Homo sapiens: one gene and its partner. The protein of the gene in region 1 purifies or fractionates together with the protein of each later gene. This does not show direct contact. Each region holds a gene or a part of one and is shown in the gene's direction. Other genes may lie near its edges.

Evidence for each region. Proteins that work in one complex are often made in the same cells at the same time.
Region 2: the proteins of LSS (region 1) and SAFB2 purify together in Homo sapiens (affinity purification with mass spectrometry; one large-scale study listed by BioGRID and IntAct). This does not show direct contact.

The regions. Positions count from the first base shown.
Region 1 is NC_000021.9:46,204,752-46,208,400, reverse strand, and holds part of LSS (lanosterol synthase), read left to right. Parts: intron 1-99; coding exon 100-150; intron 151-823; coding exon 824-973; intron 974-1,632; coding exon 1,633-1,729; intron 1,730-2,459; coding exon 2,460-2,565; intron 2,566-3,649. UniProt on the Homo sapiens protein: Key enzyme in the cholesterol biosynthesis pathway. Catalyzes the cyclization of (S)-2,3 oxidosqualene to lanosterol, a reaction that forms the sterol nucleus.
Region 2 is NC_000019.10:5,616,277-5,619,925, reverse strand, and holds part of SAFB2 (scaffold attachment factor B2), read left to right. Parts: intron 1-3,439; coding exon 3,440-3,504; intron 3,505-3,590; coding exon 3,591-3,649. UniProt on the Homo sapiens protein: Binds to scaffold/matrix attachment region (S/MAR) DNA. Can function as an estrogen receptor corepressor and can also inhibit cell proliferation.

The DNA.
Region 1 (3,649 bases):
CTCTCCAGTCCTGCCCAGTCTGTCTCAGCGATGTCCCAGATGGGGACGTCCCGTGGTGACGTGTTCTCTGCTTCCACATTTGCCCTCGATGCTGCCCAGGTCCCAGATAACCCTCCCGACTACCAGAAGTACTACCGCCAGATGCGCAAGGTATGCGGGAGCCAGCCCCATCCCTGTCCCGTCCCCCAGGGGAGGCCGCCCTCAGCAGGGTGGGTCCTTCCCTCTGAAGGGGGGGCTCCTCCCTGGGGGACTCCTCCCTTGGCGTTTTTGGGTGTCCTGCTGTGGTGGATGCCTGGCCTAGGGGCTCATGCTTCATGTTGCTGAGCTGCCTGGCACATGGAGGCACAGTTGGCTTGCACACACAGCCGTGCCTCAGAGCAGTTCCAGTGGTCACGGCACACACAGGCTTCAGAAGGACAGCCGAAGTGTAGCCAGTGTGTCCGGGGAAGGCAGAGGAAAGAAGTAGACCTCAGAGCCGGTGTGGGCTGTGACCACAGGTGCAGACTGTGAAATTAGGCATGGACCCAGCTGCTGCTGCCTGTTTACAATGGGGGTGGGGGGCACCTGGGCCCCATCCTGTCCGTCGTGAGATCTGCAGGTGTTGAGGGTGTGAGCTGCACCCCTGAGGGTCCCTGTGCTGGAAGCTGGAGGTCTGTCTGGATGTACCCAGCTTGGGGCCCTGGCTGCACCCACACCTTTGGTGGCTGGGCCCCTGCCCTGACCGGGTGCTCTGTGGTGGGGAGGGATGCGTGCGGCTGTGGGGAGGTTCTGAGAACTGGGGTGTGGACACCCCCAGCCTGGAGTCATGGCTTGTGCTCTGCAGGGTGGCTTCTCCTTCAGTACGCTGGACTGCGGCTGGATCGTTTCTGACTGCACGGCTGAGGCCTTGAAGGCTGTGCTGCTCCTGCAGGAGAAGTGTCCCCATGTCACCGAGCACATCCCCAGAGAACGGCTCTGCGATGCTGTGGCTGTGGTAAGGCTGTGGTCCCAGCAGCCCCGTCCATACCTCGTGTCCTGCAGATGAGCTGCGTGCTCACTTCCACTCCTGTGGGCTCCAGCCCAGCACACAGTCCGGCCAGGCCGTAGGAGCTTGTCCTTGGATGGTGTCTATATGTGGAGAACTGTGAGCTCTGGCTGGACCCCTAGGGGCCTTGCTGGGCTGTGTGCACAGGGCCCTGCACTGCGGAGCTGGTGTCCAGCCCAGCCACCGATACTTGGGGGAGCCGGCGTGGCCCCCAAGGTTTCTCTCTGGTGGTTTCCACTGGGTGTCTGAAGAGGGAATTTGTTGGTGTTGGTTTTGGTGCCACATCCTTTCAGCACATCTGGCTTTTGTGTGTGTTTCCCAGTGGAGACCCTGCCCTTTTCTGGCAGCACAGACTTGGTTTCTAAGTCATGGGCACGTGTGGGGGCATGTTCCCTGGTGGCTGTGCATGGAGGCCCTGACAGATGAGGTTGCAGCTGCTGCTTGGGGCACCCGAGGGCTTGGTTAACGTGGAAATCAGCTCTCCGCCCCCTGTTCCTGCCCCATCGGTTGTCAGCCCTAGTGTTGCCTCTAGAGAGTTCCGCTGTGCCCTGGGCGCCTGTGTGTGCTCAGCACATGGGCGAGTTCTAGGGTGCTCTCTGTGATTTCAGCTGCTGAACATGAGAAATCCAGATGGAGGGTTCGCCACCTATGAGACCAAGCGTGGGGGGCACTTGCTGGAGCTGCTGAACCCCTCGGAGGTCTTCGGTGAGTGGTCGGCCAGCACTGCGGCGCGCAAACCCGGGGCTGGCTAGCACTGTGGTACACAAACCTGGGGGCCAGCTTTTCCCCCTTGCCCGAGGCTGCAAGGGCCCAGGTTCACCGGCAGATCTGTCTGGAGCCCTCCCTCAGCCCAGGCTGTTCTGCGCTCCTCCATCCCCCGGGGTGGCAGGATCCTTGTGTTGTGGATAGGAGGGCATCAGGTCAGACCTAGGGGACAGTGGAGGGTTCCAGTGAGATCCACAGCCTGGGCTGGTTCCTGCTCAGTCCACAGGGCTTGTGTTCTGTGGAGGCTGCTGTGTATCCAGAGCGCCTGCAGGGAGGTGTCTTTGGGGACTGTGGGGACTGTGGGGACCCATGCCATGGGCAGTAGGCTGCTGTGTGTGCATGGTTGCCACCGTACTGGTCTTGGGGGAGGATCTCAGCCCTGGTCCACCTCTGGGCACCTCACATACCCGCCTTCCTGGTCCCCTCCACATCACACATGGCTTTTTGGGGTGGGGTCGCAGCTTTCTGCTGTGTTCCCCTCATCTTCGCTCTCAGGTAGCACAGGTGTGTGTCCTGGACCAGCCGGCGTTTGCTCTGGAGGTTGGTCAGGGAGGCAGCGTCCGGGCCCGGGCTCACTGCAACACTCTTGCTTGTTGTGGCTTTGCCTGAGCTGCAGAGCCTGGGCAGCCAGGGTGAAACCCAACACTTGGTTCTTCCCTCCCTTTCCCAGGGGACATCATGATTGACTACACCTATGTGGAGTGCACCTCAGCCGTGATGCAGGCGCTTAAGTATTTCCACAAGCGTTTCCCGGAGCACAGGGCAGCGGAGATCCGGTAAGGAGGGTCTCAGCCATTCAGTGTGGGCGCTGCCAAGTCGGGGGCCAAGACCCAGACGCATCATTCTGTGACACGGCCCTGGTGGCCCATCTCAGAAGCGAAACTCATGGAAACATGCAAGAGGCTTCGGATGTTGTGGAATCCAGTCATATGCCCTAAAGCATACAAAATATCTGTTAGGGGCTCAGAATAGCACAGTTATGATACAAAAATGGATTTTCTCTCTCTTTTAATAATGTTAAGAAGACATCACATACCTGACTCCACCGGTGTCCCAGAAACGGTTTTTAAGTAACCTTTCCTGTTGAAGGGTAGCAAGTATTCAGAAAAGTGTACAGGTTGGTCTTCTTGAAGCAAACAGGAAGCGAACAGTGCCAGCATTAGACATGGTGACACCACCAGAGCCCTCGGCCCGCCCCATGACGGGGCCGCCCACATGCCTGCCAGGTCGTGGGTGTCTGTTGCTCGCTTTGGATCTTGTCTAGGTGGACTCCTGAGGTGTGGAATTCGTGTTGCCTTCTCCTGCTCTCCTGCTCTCCTGCTCGCGGTTAGTCAGGTGGCTCGGGTAACAGCAGCGTTCTCTCCCTCGGGCCTTCGGTTGAACACAGATGCCGCGCTATCCAGCTGCCTGTTCTCAGCACCTGGGAGGATTTCAGTCTGGGTTATTATGAAGCATCTACTGTGAACACTCTTGTACTTATCTTTTGGGGGCACCTGGGTACCCATTTCTCATGGTCACGTACCTAGGAGTGGCATTGCTGTGTTAGAGGGTACGTTATAGGGTATGTGATTTTTGTAGGTTCTTCTTTATCCTATCACGATTACATTTTTTTACTTTTGTTCAACCTGGTGTAGACTCACCTTGGTCACAATGCACTGTCCTTTTTATATATTGCTAGATTCAATTTGAAGAATATTTTGTTAGGATTTTAGCAACTCTGGTTACAAGAGACGCTGGTCTATAATTTTTTTTTCTTTATAATGTTTTTGTCAGGTTTTCCTGTTAAGATGATGCTGGACTTAGAAAAGCAGTTGGAAAATGCTTTTAAAATACTCTTTGGAAGAATTTATGTAATATTCA
Region 2 (3,649 bases), on another chromosome or scaffold:
AACTGTAAAGTTCAAGACTTACTACTCAAAATATCCTTGGCTTTTAGCAGGAATTTAACAGGGATTTTTTTTTTTTTTTTGCGATGGAGTTTTGCTGTTGTTGCCCAGGCTGGAGTGCAGTGGTGCGGTCTTGGCTCACTGCAACCTCCGCCTCCCGGGTTCAAGTGATTCTTGTGCCTCAGCCTCCTGAGTAGCTGCGATTACAGGTGCCCGTCGCCACGCCCAGCTACTTTTTTATATTTTTAGTAGAAACGTGGTTTCACCATCCATGTTGGCCAGGCTGGTCTCGAACTCCTCACCTCAGGTGATCCACCCGCCTGGGCCTCCCAAAGTGCTGGGATTAGAGGCATGAGCCACTGTGCCCGGCCTAGCAGGGATCATTTCTAATGATCTTTGCATCATTAGAAAAACTAAACTTTAGCTGAGTGCTTTGAAGACCTGCCTGAATGTCTAGATTAAAGCTTAGGTGGATTCAAAACTACTTGGAGTTAGTGTTTTGTCAGGAAAGCTTGGATGATAAAGTTCTTCTGTTGCTATAAAAAGGACTTTTGTAGCCTCAGCTCTAGTGAGGGTTAGAAGGGCTTCTGATCCCTTCCCATTCCTTTTTCAGAGAAGTAACCAAGCCCAGAGAGAGCCCAGGTCTTCAGGTGGTGCTCAGGCCCTGCAGGCCTCATCTTCCATCCTGAGCTGGTGATGTTCTCTAGAGGTGTCGGGGCACGTGGCTAATGGATAAAGCACAAGAGCCTTAGGACTTTGTGGTTGCAGTTAGGGCCTGTGATTACATACAACTGTTAGATCAGGAGGAATTCACCAGTTAATTTTCGTTTCAAGCACTATGCAGCAGTGTTCAGTTGAGTCCAAAGTTGGACTCATTCTGGGAACTCACCAGTAACTGCTTCCTTGCAAAAACTGAAGTAGCCAAACTTGTTGAGGGAAAAGTGTCCTCATTATAAATCAGAGTAAGGGTCTTCACCAAGATTAGGAGTCCTAGGCAACATTGTAGGTGGGTTTGGAAAAAATAAAACTTGGATTAAAAATTTAAGTTTTAGATGCCATGTGGGATTAAAGTTGGATTTTCTTACATCTGTGTCCCCAGCAGCGGCAGCTTTTCGTTGGCCAATGCCAGGTGCCGGGGATTGGGGCGTCGCCTGTCTGCGCCACATTAGCTTTTCTGTGATGCTTTTTGGTCAGCATTTCTCCTATTTCCGGCCTATGTGGGCACTGCAGGCTACTATTTAGGGGCCTAGAAATTGGGTGCAATTACCAAACATTTTTAGACAACGTATTTCAAAAGGATATGCTGTGTTTAGATATAATGCGAAGTGGGACAGCTGAGTTTTAGAGTGCCAGCTTTGGAGCTCAACCAAATTCTCGTGTCAAATGCAGATAATAAAACCTGCTAGCGTTGTTAGGCGTCTTAAATGATAGACTGGAAAAAGCTCACGTTGCGAGACATGCAATTAAACTGCATTTCTTGAGTGATTATTGATAATAGTGGTGAGTGAGACTCTTGAGGTGTAGACCCTGCAGGTTTTTTATGTTTAATTTTCTTTCTTTTTTTTTTGAGACGGAGTCTCGCTCTGTTGCCCAGGCTGGAGTACAGTGGTGCAATCTCGGCTCACTGCAAGCTCCGCCTCCCGGCTTCAGGCCATTCTCCTGCCTCAGCCTCCCGAGTAGCTGAGACTACAGGCGCCCGCCACCACGTCCGGCTGTTTTTCTATTTTTAGTAGAGACGGGAAAGTATGTATTTTTTTCTGTTTGATTTTTCTTTATCGGTGTGTATGTTAGAGAGACTCGGTCTTACTCTGTTGCCCAGAGCGGAGGGCAGTGGCATGATCGTGGCAGCCTCAAGCTCTCAGGCTCGGAGCATCCTCCCACCTCATTCTCACCGGTAATTCAGAGTACAGGTACATAACACCATGCCTGGCTAATTTTTGTATTTTTGGTGGAGATGGGGGTCTCACTTTGTTGCCCGAACTTGTCTCTTAATTCCTAGGCTCAAGCGAGCCACCTGCCTTAGCCTCCCAAAATGCTGGGATTACAGGCGTGAACCACTGTGCCTACACTGTGGGCATTTTTTCTGTTTCATTAAATATTCTTTAAAAGCATACATTCTTTAAATATTGTGAGACATTGGATGGTGTCCCACAGGGTTTCTCAGCATTGGCACTGTTGACAATTTGGGCCGAAGAATTCTCTGGGGTTGGGGAGTATCCTGTGCATTGCAGGGTCGTGACCAGCATCACTAGCTACTGATGCTAATGGCGTTCCCCCAGGTCATGACCACTAACAATGTCTCCAGACATTGCCAGCCATTCCCCCCGGTTGTGAACCATATCTGAATGAAAATATGCTGTAATTTGTTTCCCTTTTGGGTGTTTAACAGGTATAATAGGACAGATATCTATGTTTTGAACTCCTTGTCAGATATCCTAAGACTCAAATTCCTGGAACAAAGGGTATGCACATTTGTAAGGTTTTTGATACATATAGAGCCTCAAGTTTCTTCTCAAGGTTTCCACTCTTGAACTCCTCTGGCCTCCTTTTGCAATTCCTAGCAGAATTCTATCAAATAGTTATTTTGTGGTCACAAAACCCAGGATGATTCTCGACTTTATGGCAGCCTTTGCCTTTTTGCCTTGGGGGAAAAAAAAAAGTTCTTGAGCTAAAAAATGACAAAGACCTACTTGAAATGGGTGGAATATAGGGAGAGCCAGCAAATCACTAACTCAATATGTTATTTTATGTTGCAGTTCTTTGGTTACTAGATGGGTATTGCATTTTTTTGTTGGTTTGTTGAAAATGCCTGTTTTTATCCTTTGCTCATTTTTTTGTGATTTTTTTTCTTAGGTTTGGAGTGTTTTTGAAATATTTGGAAACTTTTAGATATTTTGTGGAAAATCAGAGTACTCTGAATCTAAGAGGAATCCTAGATTTTCATCTCCCTGTTGATGGCTTACTTAGAACACCAATTGAGGCCGGGCACCATGGCTCATGCCTGTAATCCCAGCACTTTGGGAGACCGAGGCTGGTGGATCACGAGGTCAGGAGTTTGAGACCAGCCTGGCCAATATGGTGAAACCCCATCTCTACTAAAAATACAAAAATAAGCTGGGCATGGTGATGCACGCCTGTAGTCCCAGCTGCTGAGGAGGCTGAGGCAGGAGAATCGCTTGAACCCAGGAGGTGGAGATTGCAGTGAGCCGAGATTGTGCCGCTGCACTCCAGCCTGGGTGACACAGGGAGACTCCATCTCAAAAAAAAAAAAAAAAAAAAAAAAAAGAAAACAAATTGAGACAAAATTACGTGTGACAGGAGAGGGGAGACTTATAGTTTATCTTGTAATGTGTTCTGTTCTAAGATTGAAATCTATTCTGCATAAACTAATTATGAGGTAGAACTTGAGTGTTATCTGATTGAACAATTATTCTGTAATTAGGACTGAAGATGGAGGAGGAAGGCACAGAAGATAATGGCCTGGAAGACGATTCCAGAGACGGGCAGGTAAGTGATGTCAGGGTAGAGATGACAAGCAGCAGCTCCCTGTCCTGGTCCAGGTGGTCGTTAACGATTCTTCTTCCTCTTTACAGGAGGACATGGAAGCAAGTCTGGAGAACCTGCAGAATATGGGCATGATGGACATGAGTGT